Linked DNA regions of Homo sapiens. The protein of the gene in region 1 interacts with the protein of each later gene in a pairwise test. Each region holds a gene or a part of one and is shown on either strand. Other genes may lie near its edges.

Region 1 (5,165 bases):
CCAAGCCTTTTCTCACCTCAGGGCCTTTGCACTGGCTGCTCCCTCAGCCTGGAACCCCTTTTCCCCAAATATTAACTGGGCCGACATTTCTCTCTCTTTAGGTCCAGCACCACCATCACCTACTCCAAGTGACCATCCCTGACTGCTCCATCTGAATGTTGTTTCATCTGTATCTCTGCCTTACCACTCCACAGCATTTATCATGATCTGCAGCTATCTTTTATTTCTATTTGATTTCTTGTTTCTTGTCTGTCTCTTCCCCTAGAATGTGGATTTCACCCCCTAAGGGCAGGAATTCTTGTCTGTTTTTTTTCCCACTTCTTGATTCCTAGCCCCTAAAATAGTACCTGACAATAAATGTTGAAAGACAGAGGGGCAGAAGGAAACAAAGAAATACAGGCTAAATGACTGAGGGAATAAATGAATGAATGAATATATACATGTAAGGCTAAATAAATAAAATGGGATAAATGAATAAAAGGGACTTTGGGGGAAAGGGACCCCATTCCCACATTTGGAATGTAAACAGACTGAGATTTATAGAGAGACAGAAAGACAATTCTTTTATTTTTCTTTAAAAATCCTTGAGTGAAGAGAACTGAGAATTTTTGTATAAAAAGGGCCTTGGGATTGTTGGGTGAGTGTGAGGACCAGGCAGGGATAACAGCATTGGAGGGGTTGGTGGGGAAGAAATGGGGGGTTGGGGGCCTGGAAGAGGAGAGTGGAGGGTGGGCACAGAGCAGGTGGAGGGGGAGCCATGTCCTGCGGGGAGGAGCACAGGGCAGCAAGTAACTCAGCCACTCAGTCATCCCATTCATCATCTTCATCTTCATCGCCAGCCTGGTCCTCCCCTTCGTCTGGAGGGAAAGAGAAAGATAAGATGCCCTGGGAGGTTGGTGGGGGGCTTCATAGGGCCTGGGAGGTGAGGACTGGACCCTGGGGTTCTGAGGTCTCATGCTAGAGGAGGGCAAGTTAGAGTTTCCATTTGGGACAAGAAAGGGATTATAGTTGGGGTCTGAGTTCTAGTTGGAGTTGAAGTTTATGCTGTCAAAAATGTGGTTAGTCGAGATATTGTCAAACAAAGGGTTAATGTTAACCTATTTATCACATAATAGGGTGAATTTAAATAATATTAGCAAAGGTGTGATAATATATTATTGCTTCCTGTCTGGTTAACGCTAATATTTTTGACACATAATGGGGTTAATGACAATAACATCAAAATTAGCTGGGCGTAGTGGCGTGCCTGTAGTCCCAGCTACTCGGAAGGCTGAGGCAGGAGAATCGCTTGAACCCAGGAGGCAGAGTCTGCAGTTAGCCAAGATCGCGCCACTGCACTCCAGCCTGGGTGACAGAGCAAGACTCCGTCTCAAAAGAAAAAAAAAATCATTGTCGAAAGATGAAGTTCCTATAGTAGGTTGATACTAATATTTGCATCATATAATGGATTAGTGACAGTATTGCTGACAGATTAAGAGAGTAATAGTAACATTATTATAAAAAGATTAGGTTAACAGCCAGGCCTGGTGGCTCATGCCTGTAATCCCAGCACTCTGGGAGGCTGAGGCGGGGCAGATCGCTTGAGCCCTGGAGTTGCAGAGCAGCCTGGGCAACATGAGAGTAGTGAGAGCTTGGTAGTGAGAGCTCATCACTACCAAAAAAACACCAAAAATTAGCCAGGTATGGTGGCACACGCCTGTAGTCCCAGCTACTTTGGGAGCTGAGGCGGGAGGATCGCTTGAGCCTGGGAGGTTGAGGCTGCACTGAGCCATGATTGCACCACTGTACTCCAGCCTGGGACACAGAGCGAGACCCTGTTTCAAAAAAATTTTTTAAAAGATTAGATTAGGTTACGTCATAATGAATTAATGTAAATCTGTTAATACATGGAATTAAAATTAATATTGTCAACAATAGTGTTCTTCATAATATTGTCATCACATAATGGGTTAATTTTTTTTTTTTTTGAGATAGGATCTCTGTCACCCAGGCTGGAGTGCAGTGGCACAATCATGGATCACTGCTGCCTTGACCTCCCAGGGTCAAGCAATCCTCCCACCTCAGCCTCCCAAGTAGCTGGGACCACAGGCACACACCACTATGCTTGACTACTTTTTTTGAATTTAGTTTTTATGGAAACGAGGTCTCACTATATTGCCCAGGCTGGTCTCGAACTCCTGGGCTCAAGTGATCCTCCTGCCTTAGCCTCCCAAAGTTCCTGGATTACAGGCATGAGCCACCGCGCCGGCCAGCTGATGTTAATAGTACTGAACATGTGGGAATGACATTAATATTGTGGACACACCCTGGCATTAATGTTAATATTACTGTCAAAGTTGGAGTTAATTATATTATTGTCACATAATGACTTAATGTTAACATTGTCAAAAACGAGGCTGACACAAGATTCATGTTAATGCTGTCAAACAGATGGGGCTGATGTCACTATTGGTGGTGACTGCTGGGATTGTTTTGAGGCCAGTGCTAGCCCTGGGAGCCAGGTTTGAGGCCCCGGCAGGATCAGCTCACCGGAGGAGTGGATGGCTCTGCTTCTCTTCTGCATCACGTGCATCAGGGCCCCCACCAGTCCCTCTGAGCTCTGAGGTGGTGGCTGCAGCGCTGAGCTCTCTGGGGCCCCAGGGGTCTGCAGCAGGCAGGGATCAGCACAGAGGGCTTAGGGCCTGGGAAAGGAGCATTTCTCCCCGCCCCTCCATCAATATTTTCTCTCCCACACACTCCAGTCCCCTTCAAGGCTTCCCACCAACCTTTCAACCCTATCACTGAATCCCTAAGGCCTGGCACTCTCCTCAGTCCTGGCCTCAGCCCCCCAGTATCCTGACTTAGACGGGACACCCCAGAGTCCTAGACCCCCAATCCTCCATCCTGCCTGTCCTCACCTTGTTCAGCTGAATTCCCTGCCGGATTTGATCCAAAAGCGCTCCCCGACCCCCACCAGGGGCCAGGCCCCCGGCAGGCACCAGAGCAGGAGGGAGTGGGGGAGGGGCTGGTCCATTCCCGGAGCTGGGCGGCGGTGGCGGTGGTGGCGGTGGTGGTGGCATGGGTGGCCCACCAGCTCCAGGGGGTGGAGGGGGCAGTGGTCCAGAACGTCCAGTAGCTGGAGGGGGTGGTGGTGGAGGGCCCCCTCGGCCTGGGGGTGGGGGTCCCCGGGGTGTTGGTGGGGGTGGGGCAATCCCCAAAGGTACAGGGGGCAGTGGACCAGAACGACCCTTGTTACCCCCCACAATAGGGGGCCGGGGGAGCTGGTTCCCTCCTCGAGATGGCGGTGGGGGCGGCGGAAGTGGCTCTGTGGAGGGGGTATAACACATAGCTGTAACTCTCATTGATTTCTTCTGAGCCTCAGTTTTGCTCATTTGTAAAATGGGTACCCCCACTGACCAACTCCTGACTGAAGCAGTATAGGTGCTCCCATAAGGACTGAGTGACTTAGTGCGTATCTTAGCTATGAGCTGCTTGGGCTAGAGAAGGGAGCGTATGGAAGCAGGGTCTCACCCTGGCGCCTCATCTCCTGCCGCACAGCCTCCAGCCCACCCTGGTCCTCAATGAAGTCGTAGATAAGTTTAGAGGTCTCGGCGTCGGTGAGCTGGGCCTCGCTGATTCCTGCCCTGGAGAACAGACTCCGCAGATCTGGGTCGAGGTTGTTCACCTGCCCAGGAGGAAAAAGGCCAGGGGCAGGAGTAGAGGAATAAGGCGAGGAGACAAGCGACATGGATTGTCGTTGGGTCCATCCCAGCAAGGGATCTGAGAGGGGTGTGGGAAGGGCACGATCTGGGGGTGGGGTCTCAGCAGTGGTCTTTGGAAGGGTGGGTGGAAGTTTAGTGGAGTCCAAGAGACTCTGAAGTTACTCACGTCAAATCCATTCTGGGGGTCCCACCCCACGTGGCTGACATGCCTGGGAGAGGTGAAGAGACTCCAGTGAATCCTCACTGCCCTTCCTTCCCTCCCTTCATAGTGAAACCCTCTTGCCCTCTCCTGCCCAAAGAGACTCTGAGGGGCCAGAATTAATGAATGAGACTGAATGAGTGAATGAGTATAGGCAGGAGTTATGGAATTAGAAGGGCTCCATAGTTTGTGGTGCTGATCCATCCACCCATCCCTCTTTCCCCATCTATCCCATGCATTTGTCCACCTATTCATTCACATTCATCTGTTGGACTACTGATCTGTCCATACATCTGTCTCTGCAACTATCTGCCCACATATGTCTGTTCACCCATTTGTCCACCAGTCTGTCCTCACACACACTTGTCCATCCACCCATCCACCTACCCATGTGCCCACCTTTCCATCTATCCATCCACTCATTTTTCTACCCATGCAACCACACACTTCTGTTCACTTATCCATTGAACTGTCCATTCATCCACGTATCTGTCCACCTGTCCATCCCCATCCACCTTGTCTGTGAGCCAATCAGCCTGCATATCAATCTGTCCACACACCTATCCACTCACCCATCTATCTATCCACGCACCTCCCATCAACCCATCCACCCATAAACTTGTCCATCCAACCACTTATCCATTCATTCTTCAACCCATTCATTCATCCATTCATTTATCCATCCATCCACCCATCCACTCACCCACCTACCCACCAGCCCTTCTCATCCATCATCTACCTCATCTATCTATCCATTTGTTCACCTGCCCACCCACCTGCTCTCCTAACAGCCCACCCAGAGTGGGCCCAGGGTGAGGCAAGTAAGGTGCCTAGGGTGCAAAATTTAAGTGAGTCACTCACTCTGAGAGTCAGGAATTACAGTTGCATGCCTCTGAGAGTGAGTGCCTCCTTAAATTTTGTACCCTTGGTGCCTTATTTACCTCTCCCTAGACCCAGCCCTGCACCTACCTATCCAACCACCCATTTACCCACTCAGCCACCCAGCCATCTGCCCATCTGCCCATCCTTCCATTCACTCAGCTGTCCACTTGTTCATGTGCCCCTCTGCCCCCAGGAATCTGTGGGTCCACTGGGGAGTGGCTCTCACTTGAATCCACTGGGTGCACCAATATCAGCTTTGCTGATCTTCTTCTTCCCTGAGCGTTTCTTATCAGCTGGGCTAGGTCCAGGTGCTGGGAGCCCACGGTATCGTGAACTCGTGATGTCAGGGTTCTGGATGTCCACTGTCGCCAGCCCCAGGGAGA
Region 2 (7,036 bases), on another chromosome or scaffold:
AGCTCGGGCAGCGGCACCTGATGGTGTGATGGAGCTGAAACAGTCATTAATCTCAGCCCAACAGGGCACCCTTCTTCAGGTGCTACCCAAGAAGAACTTCGACCTTGAGTAGCACTTGGAAGTTCTCTTTGTGTTGAAACGCTGGATGGTTGATTTTGTGTGCTTCACCACCGCTGAGCAGAACATACTCAAGAAAAGTCAGTCTCAGGCTGGATGCAATCGCTCACGCCTGTAATCCCAGCACTTTGGGAGGCCAAGGCGGGCGGATCATGAGGTCAGGAGTTCGAGACCAGCCTGGCCAACATAGTGAAACCCCATCTCTACTAAAAATACAAAAATTAGCCGGGTGTGGTGGCGGGCACCTGTAGTCCCAGCTAATCGGGAGGCTGAGGTGGGAGAATCGCTTGAACCTGGGAGGCAGAGGTTGCAGTGAGCTGAGAGCACACATTGCACTCCAGCCTGGGTGACAGAGTGACACTCCATCTCAAAAAAAAAAAAAAAAAAAAAAAGTCAGTCTCCCCAAATCTGAAAATTGCACCGATTTTCTAGTATACCAAGAACAGGTAGTTGCTAGGCTGTTGTGTGAGCTGTAAGAGGCATTGGTGAAGCCTTTCTGTAGAACATGGAACAGGAGACAGAGTTCATGTAATGCTCTGTGGTTCTCATGCTAGGTGGGGCAGCCCAGAGGATAGGAAAGAAGGAATCGGCTGATGATGCAGAATTAAGACTGATGGGAGAGAATGAGACAAGGTTCTGCCAGGACCAGAACAAACCAGGACTGTGGTATTGCTCTTCATCGCACCTGGCTAAGGATTTCACTAGTAGGTGTGGGAGGTCCTAGAGCCACTCTAAATATTACTACCTCGCCTGTGTTGTGTGCAGAGGCAGTTACCTCAAACAAATATATGTCATATTTAGAAAGCAATAAGAATAATTCATTTATCATTCTCAATTATGTAAACTAGCAGGTTAAAAGAGGTTTTTGATTGTTTTTTTGTGTTTTTTTTTTTTTTTTTTTTTTTGAGATGGAATCTCGCTCACCTGCCTTGGCCTCCCAAAGTGCTGGGATTACAGGCGTGAGCCACCATGCCCGGCCTCGAGGCTTTTGATATTATTAAGAAGAGATACTAGGATTGGATGGGCTGCTAGAGAAATTTGGGTCAATTATGAGGCCCAAAGAAGGATGATCCAGGGAAGAGCACTGCAGAGATGGCTCTTAAAGCGGCTCCCCCAAGAGGAAGGATCTTCTTTACCTAGGACCATTCCTAGATTCCAAGATAGAGGAAGATAAGGATTGGAATATCTTGTTTTTAAAAGACTGAAAAATAAGGCAGCAAAACAACATATTTTGAAGTGTATCAAACTGCTTTTTCCTTTTGTGCTCCCGAATGTATAAGTCCTTGATTTTCAGCCCCATGCCCGGCTTCCCAGACTAAGCCACAGAGGGAGAAGCCTGGTATCCCACGGGGAACTCCTCTAAAAGGACACAGGGACCAGCAGGGAACCGTGACTCTGGGCTGCCTTAAAGAGTCCTTTGTAGAAAATAGGGTAAACATAAAAATGTCTAAAGAAAAAGATAACCTATTTTAGTTTTGAAAATATACAGCCTTTTCAAACCCACTGAAGAACAAACAAACAAAAACAAACAAACAAAAAACCAGCTGGGCTACCTTTCTCAGTGACAGCTCCACATTTGTGTCTGCGTTGAAGTTGTATTTGGCTATAGCTTCTCCGATTTCTCCGGGCTGGGCTGGCGGAGGTGGTCTTGCAGGCTGTGCTTTCTCAGGAGGTGTGAGTTTCTATGAAGGAAATAGTCATTTATTCTCAAATCTGCGGTGACCTTTGAAACCACCGCCATCCAAGAGAGAAAGGGAGAGGACCTACCTCTACGTATGAGATCGGGAAGATGCCCACTCTCCCGTGGTGTTCTCCCTCATACCAATTTTGATCAATTTTCCTGAGGATGTAGACAGTATCTCCTTTCTTAAATGACAACTCCCTGGAAGAGACACGTTGACATGGTCTTTTTGTGATGTACAGCAATAATTCTCAAGATCAACACCCTCGCTAGATCTGCATTTGTTTGGCAAATATACTTACAATATTAAAAAATCCAATTGATATTGAGTCCGATTAGATAAGAATGATCCTTGCAAATTCTTAGAATGCACTTAAAACATTATAACTTTAGAAATGATTTCAAACAGAGTAAGTATAAACATTCCATTGGATATAAATCACAGACAGATTAATAAGAAGTTTAAAGGAGGGGACAGACTCTTGCTACTTTACCATTAGTTCAGAGAAGAGGCATTTTGAAGCTTGGAAAAATGATGGAATAGTTCTGCACTGATTTTTTTTTTTTTTGTCCTGAAGCTAGTTGGCTAGTTAGTTACTAGCCCCCCAGCCCCTTTTGATGTACTGAAGCTTACATGAAGGAAAACAAATATCATGTAGCCTCAGAATAGAAGTGCCAACACCAGAACAAATTTTATTTGTGGATCTTTGAAGTTGGTTGACAGGTATTTTAATAGAATATCTTGATAAGGAATTTATTTTGTGTAACAGAAAAGATCTTACACTTTTAATTTTCAGTGGGGCAAGAAGAATGTGTTTTAAGTGCAAAGACATATGCCAATGCTTGCCTTTCTATCTTTTATTTACAAAAAATAAAAATATTTTTAAGACACTATATTTTTCAATTTTGGCTGTTTCTAAGAAAATTGTAGGTATATTTGATTTGGGTATTTATAATTTTAAGTTATAATGACATTATGCATTTTGAATAATTCACACCTAAACTTATCACCTTCACTACATCAATTTTTCCTGGCTTAATCACCCAGGTGATTAGGTTGGTTCATTATTTTGCCTCCGCAATTATTCTTGGATGGAGGGCGATTAATTTGTATCTTCTCCCAAGAGCCTCATTTTGCAATACATCTGCCCTCCCACTCTGGAATCTTCTGCATTGTTTTGTTCAGAATTTTCATTTTTTAATCTTTTTTTAAAAAATTTTGGTTCAGAATTTTCAGTTGGATCATTTATTAGTATAGGCCGTTTGATGGAGAGAGATTTATACCTGATGGAGAACACTTCTCATTGATTAAAAGAATTAATCGAAAAAATGGTGGTATATTAAAAGAATGATCACACATTTAGAAGTGCTAAAATCTTCACAATTGAAAATGTGTTAAATTTTCAGTAACCCTAAAAACAAAGAAGATTCATGGAGCTTTACATTCAAATACAGTGCTTCCTTCTTTTGTGCAAATGCCTAATGTAAAAAACAGAAAACAAAGCAAAGCAAGATATTTAATGTTCACAACACAACAGTTTCATTTGTACTAGGTATGTTTTGTTTCTGGAAATGAGACTAGCTTTTTAAAATATAATATGAACATATGAATCAGAGGCAACCAATTTTTCAAAGCTATGAAAAAGACTCTTTTGTATTTGTATAGGTTGCATTTAAAATTTTGAAGTCCTTAAGACACAGGAAAGTCTTACTCTTAAGTTTTCAAAACTGTGTCCCTCTCATCTCAGACCTAGAATTTTAAAGTCCCATTTGCTTTTTTCCCCTCACTTTTATTTTTATTTGTTTTTGAGATGGAGTCTTGCTCTGTCACCCAGGCTGGAGTGCAGTGGTGTGATCTTGGCTCACTGCAACCTTCACCTCCCAGGTTCAAGTGATTCTCCCACCTCAGCCTCCTGAGTAGCTGGGATTACAGGCACCCACCACCACCCCTGGCTAATTTTTGTATTTTCAGTAGAGACGGGGTTTCACCATGTTGGCCAGGCTGGTCTCGAACTTCTGACCTCGAGTGATCCATCTGCCTTGGCCTCCCAAAGTGCTGGGATTACAGGCATGAGCCACCGTGCCCAGCTGCTTTTTAAAATTAAGACTTCTCAGAAGACCTCGTGAGCCTTGGGTGGACACCCTTCCTACTTCACATCCCCTGCCATTCCTCAGGTTTTTATATATTTAAGAAAGCTATGGATTGATTTTTACAAAGAAGAAATGAAACGTGTGCTCCGTAACATTATTTTATAAAACTGATATGCATTGTACAAATTGTCACACCATATCCACAGAACAGTAGTTAGGACCGGAGTACAGTAGAAACAAAGCATCTTATTTCTCTAATTTGAAAAAAAAAGATGTAAGCTTTTCTTCAGGCCAGATTTAAGCCATGTTCAACATCTTAATTTCTAAACAGGATTTTTCTTATCTAGTTCATTTCCTATCTCAGCAGCATTACCAAATTCTGAGTGATTTATTTATATATGTCTTCTGCCAGAGACAGTTTCTAGAGCTATTAACTCATATTATATGCATTTTTATGAGTAAATTATTTTGGTTATTATATATATATATATTCAGTGTAAACAACATATAATAATTTAATGACAATTTACAATGAATTCAATATCTGTCTTGAATTCTACTGGAGAACAAAGTTTCTTAAAGGTCTGTGCACATAGGCCACAAAAAATCTGGGCAACACCCTCTTATATATAAGTCTGCTTATGTGCTTCCGCAACCACATGCCTATCTGCTGAGCAAAGAATAAAGGCAAAAGAAATATTGCAATTCAGGATGGTGAAAACACCGACACCAAAAGACCAAAGGAGAAAACTTTGCTCAGAATCTCTGAGCTTTGCAGGCTGAGGATGGAGACTTCAATACAGGAATCTTTGTACTAAGTTCTAGTCATCAACCCCACAAACTATGCTTGGAATATTTGGATAAATAAATGTTATCAAATTCCCCCAGCTAGTGTTAATTACTCCCCAATACTTTATTTATTTACTTATTCATTCTTTTTTTTGAGACAGGGTCCTGCTCTGTTGCCCAGGCTAGAGTGCAGTGGCGCAACCTCAGCTTATGGCAGCGTCTACCTCCCGGTGAAGCGATCCTTTTGCCTCAGCCTCCTGAGTAGCTGGGACTATACAGGTGTATGCCCCCATGCCTAGCTAATTTTTGTATTTTTTGTAGAGACATGGTTTTGCCATGTTGCCCAGGCTGGTTTTGAACTCCTGGGCTCAAGCCATCTGCCTGCCTTGGCCTCCCAAAGTGCTGGGATTACAGGCATGAGCCACTGTGCCTGGCCCCCAATACTTCATTAATTCATTATTGACACAAAATTCTAAAAACAAATATTCCTAAATTCTTTTTGTTTTTCCTATCCTTTAGAATTCATTGTGTTCTACCTAACATGTTTAATGTAATTTAAAACTCAGTAATTCTCAACTAAACTTAAAATAAAAGGTAATTCTGAAGGAACCATTTAATTAGAGTAGATTGCTGCATTGGGAATTAGACCTCATTTGTAACAGATCCTACTGCAATGCTTATCTCTTAAAGCATTACTAACATTTAAAACCACCTTAAATCATATGATGAGTATTTATCTTACTTACTTAGATGTCTGAGCCTTAAAATCATAAACAGCTTTTGCAGGCAATTTCTGAAAAGGAAGATAAACAATTAGCACTAATTTAAAATTTGAATTTTCTACAAGAAAGTAGTTTAATGTGCCTTAAAGAAAAAGGAAACCTCAGGGAATCATCAAACATATGTAATGTTAATCCTGTAAGCAATTTATAAATAAGTCCATTCATTCTTCATTTAGATATTTAAGCTATAATAGGAATATAATAGAAGGCTTATTCACCATCATATTTAATCTTAGGAACTAAGGTAGATTAATGTTATAATGAGAGAATAAAATGCCTGCAGAGGTTTGCATCCTAGGCATCATTTTGGCTGTTACAAAGGCTCTTCCTAGGATAAATGTGGAGGGTCAATGGCTCTATGTTCTATGGAGATTGACACAGCTCCCTCTGAATCATAATAAAAGGACCAGATGTCATAAAAGAAGTAATCATTCCCTTCATTAGACACTTATTAACATATTAGCAAAAAATATTAGCTCAATTATCACTGGGAGGCTGGTTAGTGGGCAAAAGTATAGGTGTGATCATCTTGCATTCCCTAGAGGGCTCAGGAATCCTTCAACACTCTGTCCACCAGCCACTCGTCTTTTAGTTGTGATGTGATGTGACACGTGCCCATCCTCAAACTCTGGGGGCCACAGATCTCCCTGAGGTACCCTGTACCCTATAGCTAGCTAGGCCAGCTCTTCCTTCCTCACCAACCAACAATCCCTTCACTCCATTCTTTTCCCCCATGACTCTGGTGAACTTTAGGAATCCTGGACCATTTCTAACTTCTTTGGGGATCCCACAGGCTCTGGACTACATCAGACGCCTATAAGATCCTCTGGAGCGGCTACCAGTCCAAGTCCAGCTTTTAGTTTCCATCCAGCCGTCATGGCTCCAAGGCAGTTTGAGCAAGAACTCTAGCCCCGGCTCAGGGCCCTGGACAGAGTTCAGTTGGTGGGTGGTTCCCAGGGGCAGTATCCCGAGAACTGGGCTGGTTAAAAGCTCTTTTTAGGGATCCTCTCCAATAAAAGGAAGCCAGCAAAAATGATTTCTGTAGGCTCTGTATTGATTTACAACACAGTTGACATCAGGCTTTCTCCTGGACCAGCGGGCCAAGAAATTGTAGAGGAAACCTATTGCCTCCACGAGGTGCCCTAACTCAGGACACTTTTAGGTCATAATGGTTAAGTTCATGGGCATCAGGTCAAGACTCGGAGAAGCCTCATGGCCAAAACTGGGCCACCACTAGGGAAGACCCACAGCTAGGGTCAGGGTGTGGACTGCTTCTAGGGTCAGAGTTGCTATGCTCAGGCCCCAAGGAAAATTGTTTCTAGTTTCTCAGTATTTTCACATTTCCTGTCCGAGTTCGTTACTGGTTTGGGATAATTTTTGGCTGGTAAGTGCTGTATCAAGTGTGTTGCTGTGAAAGACTCCAATGCTATTAAATTAACTACCTCTTTTTCTGGAGTTCCTCTTCTTTCCCTTGGTGCACTTCTCCCCATGTCAGTCAAAGTGGATGAGTAACTTCTAGGGGACTCACGGTCTATTGGAAAGAACAGGGCCAGTCATGGTGAGTATCCACTTAATT
Region 3 (4,926 bases), on another chromosome or scaffold:
GTGCTGCCTGCACTGGGAGATAGTAGAATCCCCAGAGGCTGGGAGATTCCGAAGCAGTGGGACTCATACCCCCATCCCAGGTAGAACCCCAAGAAAGGAGCCAGATCCCAGAAGAAACAGGGTGGCATGGGGTGTCTAAGCGGCACCCCAGAGCTCCCTGTGCTTGACTGCGAAGTGGGAGCTGTGGAATGATGACCACAGGCCCCAGAGGGGGCCACAGGCCACAGAAAGGACCTCTATCAGCCCCTTAGTACAGGGCAAATGGAAGGAGCCCTGAGTGCCCAAGAGCAGAGAAGAGCCAGACACACAGAGACTCAGGATGGGCATCAAGGGAGCATGCAGGGGAAAGGCAGGAGGCAGGGCAAGATGATCGGAGGGCCCAATGCTGACCAGGACCATGGCGGGCATCGCAGGCCCAATGGCAGCATCCAGGTCCAGGAGTTCTGCAAGAAGCAACCCGTAACAATGTGTGCTGCTGGGTGGGCAGGGCGGGGAGGAGGGAAGAGAGCAGAGCACCAACAGAAAGGGGCAAAATCAAAATTAATACCGTTTAATTAAGTATCTACAAGACAGGACACAAGTCATAAACTGAACCCTTTAATGTGGAATGCAGGTAAATATTAATATGTATGATAGAGTGTGGGATTCAGCCTTTAAAATGCAAAGCTCCCTAAGGTCTTCAAATGTGCCATCCCCAAAAGTTCTACACATCCCTGGGGAAAGAAAGGGTCCCCAAATTGATGTGAGATTACACTTCTACCATGTGGGGAATGGGGGAGGAAAACAGAAATTCAGGTCAGATATAAAAAAAAATTAAGTTATGTTCCTCACTCATGTTCCTTTGTAAACGGAGCTCCTGAGTCACTGCAGCTGTCACCGTGCAGTGCCATCTTCAGACCCTTCATCCCTCAGGGCTGGGGGGACTCACCCTACCCTCTCACCCTTCACATTTCAGCCGTTGGGTTCACCAGCCTCCTATCCCTTCACTCATCTAGAGGGGAAATCTGCCTCCCCTTCTTCCTTTGGCCCTAAATGAGTTCATCAGTGTGACTCTAAGGAGTGATGGCAGGGAGCTGGGTTTGAGTCCAGCCCCGCCAGAGATTCCCTGTGTGAACCTAGGCAGGTCCCATCTTCCCTCTGGCCAAGTCTCAGTCTCTTTGTTGCGAAAGGGAATAAATGCTGCCTACTGGGGCTGCTGAGCAGATCCAGGCCACAGCTATGCGACACTACTTCTTAAACAGACTGCACTGCACTGGGGTTTGACCAACAAAACAAAACCAAACCAAAAGAAAAAAAAAGTTTGTGTTCAACTATGTTGAACAGAGCTGGGTTTCACAATCAGCCCTTCTGAGCTATGTCGGGGGGTGGTGAGGTTTGATTTTTCCCCATGGTCTTCCTACCAGGGCTCACCGTCTTCTCCTGCCCCAGCCAGTGGAGAGGGGAACCAGAGCCGAACTAGTGGGGAAGCAGGTTAGGGTGGGTGGGGGAGCTGAGCAGGCTTGGCTCCTGGAGGCCTGAGTCAGCGGGCAGGCGGGCAGGGCGGGCTGGGTCCTCACATGCTTGGGGAGGAGATGGTGCAGGAATGTTCCTCCCGCCCAGGCCTAGGCCCTGCCCACCGCATCCTGGCTCCGGCTCCCGTGGCCACTGCAGCTCAGCTCTAGCTTGAGAAGGGAGCTGCCTGGAGCTCTGCTGGATCGGTTCAGCCAGGGGCCTTCAGAGGCAGCCTGGCCCAGAGGATTGGCCCAGGGGAGGGCAGGGCCAGGAAACAGAGTCTGCCCAGAGCCAGGCTCTGGCCCCAGAGTATCCCCTGCCCTGCTGGGTGATAAGGCCAGCCACCACTGCTCCCTGGGCCTCAGGCGCCCATCTGTTCAATAAGGAGCTGAACTTGGTGGTATCCAGTCATCCCAATTGCATCCCTAGACCTCAGGCTGTGTGCCTGTATGTGGTGCTTGTGACTGGCTCTACTCCCCCTTGGAGACACCCCCTCCAGGGGTGGTGTCTCCAAGCAAAGCTCTCCTTAATCTCTGATGAGGTGGGGACCCTGGGAGGTCATGCAGGTGCAGTCCAGGCACAGAGATGCTTATGACACCTTTGCTCTGTGCAAGCATGGCTTTGTGGCGGTGTGTGCCCGAGTATGTGTCACTGTGTGAGGCTATGACCATGTGCATAGGACTGTGGTGTGGCTGTGTCTGACAAAGTAGCCACTGGTGCTTTGAATGGATGGCAAGGCATGTGTGGCTGTGGCTGTGAATGTGTAATAGCGTGTGGCAGTATGACTGTGTGAGCATACAGGCATGCTTATGTGGCGTATGTGCCTGTGGGCAGGTGTGTGACTGCGTGTGCTTGTTGTGAGACTGAGCGATTACATTCGTGAGTCTGTGAGTGTGTAGACACGTGGAAGACATATGGCTCTGTCATCTGGGAGGGGTGGTGCAGAGCAGGGGCCGATGGGGCCACCTGCCTCTCCCAGGCCTGGCTCTGCTCCAGCCAGTGGTGCAGCCACGGCACAGTGGTTCATAGCCCTCCTGTGTCCAGCGGGTGAAGAGATGCAGGATCTGAGGTCTGCTTCCATCCCCAGCCCCCATCTGTGGCCACAAAGCGGATTCCTTTTCCTGTACTGGGCCAAGACTGGTGACCAGGGGATCCCCTACCCCGGGTGCTGGTAGCTGTCCAGGGCAGAAAGAGAAGCCTTGTTTTCCACCCCCTCAGAGCAAAGTAAGGGAGGAAACGAGGCAGCTGGGTCCAGCCGAGTCGGGAACATCTGCCTGGCATGTGACGAGGCAGGAATCGGCCATCACCAGGATGCCCCCAACACTGGTCCCCCAATCTCCTGCTGAAAGGGGCTTAGCTACCCCAGAACGGCCCCAAGTTCCCCCAATACCCCCACCCCCATAGAGGCAGAAAGAAAAGAGAGAGGAGGGCCAGGACAGCCTCCCTCCCTGCCACACACACACCTGCCCCAGCCCAGAGACCTCAGGATACCAGGAGCAGGCCTGGCATTATCCCAAGACTCCACTTCCTGATGCTTCTCCTGGATCCAAGTCCCTCCTGAGAAAAGTATCAGACTGATGGCCTCACCCTGAGGATGGAAGGCCTGGGAGGTGGTCCCCTCTCAAGGAAGGCACACAGAGGACAACACTGTTCCCAGAGCAGGAAGCATGAGCAGGGGACTTTCCAGGCACCATGGGTTAGGAGGAGCATTCCCACCAGCCCTGCCTCGGCCTGGCCCAGCCCCCACTGCTCAGAGCCCCTTCTGCAGATGGCTACATGGATGGCAGAGCTGAGAAGAGGTTAAGGGCGGGAAGTTCCTCGGATGGGTTAGAAAATGGGGCAGGGTGGAGAGAGGGGAAAATTCCTCAGAAAGTCCCAAATCTGACCTAATGTTGACCAAGGGCCAGGGGGACCCATTCCAGAAGTTCCTCTGAGGACGCTATGCCCTGAACAGGGAGTCCTGCCCGCCCCTTCCCCCACCGCACCTGCTGGCCCTTCTCCATCTTCCTGCACAAGCTCCCTGGTCCCTGGTCTAGCCAACCTTCCCTGACGGCCTTGACCCTGGAAGCCCTCCCTCCACCAAGTCCCCATTGCCTCCAAAGGAGAGCCAAGTCTCAACCAGTACCCTCCTCTCATCTGTGGATGAACAGATCCAAGAGCAAGGTCCGCTCATCCTGATCAGGGCACCCCCAACAGCCAGCGTCCTCTTCAGTTTCCAATGTGGGAGCCTCCGCAGGGCTGGGTACCCAGGACGGTTTGGGGAAGAGACACAGCTTCTGAGTCCCCCACTTCCCTCCCCTGGACTAGGGCTTTTCAAGGGCAAGGCCAGGGCATGGCTCCTTGGGGAGAGGAGCCACCATCTATTAATTGTCCTAGGGCACAGCGTCCTGTCCCTTCCTCATACAACCCTCAGCCCCAGATCACAAGGCAGTACAGCCAGTCCCCTGGGCAGCACTCCACCTGTTTTAGAGACAAGAGTGCGTTCTAGGGAGGGATGGATCCACCCAGGGGTCCACAGCCGCCTCTAGCTCCTCCTGCCTGCTGGCACCTTCCACCAGCATAGCCCTCCCCTGAACTTTTGAGGTTCTGTGGAAAATTTGTGCCCACCACGACCTCAGAATCTCATCCAATGGCTCTCAGGAGCAATTAGGGCTCTATCCTTCTCCTGCCCTCCGCCTTTCTGGGATCCAAACAGAAAAAGTCATGCTTGTGTTATCTTAATTGTAAAAGGTTTATCAAGAAAAAAGATTCAAGGAGCAGCATCCAGGAGGAGACCATGACCCCCCCGGGGGCAAGGGGGGCAGTGGTGACACATGTCAGCACCCCACAGCAAGCTGCTGGACCACACCCTGACCTGGGTGGGGAGGAGGCAGAAACCCCTCGGGGATGTAAACATAGGTCAGAGACAGCACAACCTGACGGGGAGCAGGGGCCCACATTCCAGCGAGGCAGACAGAGGGCAGGTGGGCATGGAATCCCTCGCATGGCTGGGCAAGCAGGCCCCTGTCTTTTTCCTCTTAGGTTTCCCATTGTGCAACAGGAAGGATCTTGGGAAGACAGTGCCACAGAGCCCAAGGACCCTGAGATCCTGGGTTTGGACCTGCTTCGAGTGTGGGGAGTTATTGCTGGTGAACTCAAATATACAGTCACTTTTGAGAGTCTTCTCCAGGAAGGTGTCACCAGGGATCTGGGGCCCAGGGCTTATACCTCAGCACCTTGAGTCCGAGGAGGGGAGGATGCTGCAATGGTCCCCTGCCCGAGATAAGCTGAGGGCCCAAAAGTGGAGGGGAGTCAGAGGCCTACAGGAGGGAGATGGCCTGTAGCCCCCTCCTGCAGGGGACAGGGTGATGTACGGACAGCCAGCAACATGGGAGCAAGGGAGATCCCTTCCTACCACACAGGCCAGAATCCCCATGGAAAGCGTACCTAACTTGC

The links.
Region 2: the proteins of WAS (region 1) and SORBS2 interact in binary tests that used the Homo sapiens proteins (3 or more experiments, as listed by UniProt).
Region 3: the proteins of WAS (region 1) and SNX33 interact in binary tests that used the Homo sapiens proteins (3 or more experiments, as listed by UniProt).

The regions. Positions count from the first base shown.
Region 1 is NC_000023.11:48,686,799-48,691,963, reverse strand, and holds the end of WAS (actin nucleation-promoting factor WAS), read right to left. Parts: coding exon 5,009-5,165; intron 3,911-5,008; coding exon 3,868-3,910; intron 3,665-3,867; coding exon 3,511-3,664; intron 3,305-3,510; coding exon 2,898-3,304; intron 2,645-2,897; coding exon 2,530-2,644; intron 1,815-2,529; coding exon of another isoform or gene 1,495-1,814; exon of another isoform or gene 858-1,494; coding exon 802-857; 3' UTR 537-801; downstream 1-536. UniProt on the Homo sapiens protein: Effector protein for Rho-type GTPases that regulates actin filament reorganization via its interaction with the Arp2/3 complex. Important for efficient actin polymerization. Possible regulator of lymphocyte and platelet function.
Region 2 is NC_000004.12:185,613,161-185,620,196, forward strand, and holds part of SORBS2 (sorbin and SH3 domain-containing protein 2), read right to left. Parts: intron 6,992-7,036; coding exon 6,903-6,991; intron 5,472-6,902; coding exon 5,425-5,471; intron 2,000-5,424; coding exon 1,885-1,999; intron 1,800-1,884; coding exon 1,671-1,799; intron 1-1,670. UniProt on the Homo sapiens protein: Adapter protein that plays a role in the assembling of signaling complexes, being a link between ABL kinases and actin cytoskeleton. Can form complex with ABL1 and CBL, thus promoting ubiquitination and degradation of ABL1.
Region 3 is NC_000015.10:75,657,910-75,662,835, reverse strand, and holds the end of SNX33 (sorting nexin-33), read right to left. Parts: 3' UTR 535-4,926; downstream 1-534. UniProt on the Homo sapiens protein: Plays a role in the reorganization of the cytoskeleton, endocytosis and cellular vesicle trafficking via its interactions with membranes, WASL, DNM1 and DNM2. Acts both during interphase and at the end of mitotic cell divisions.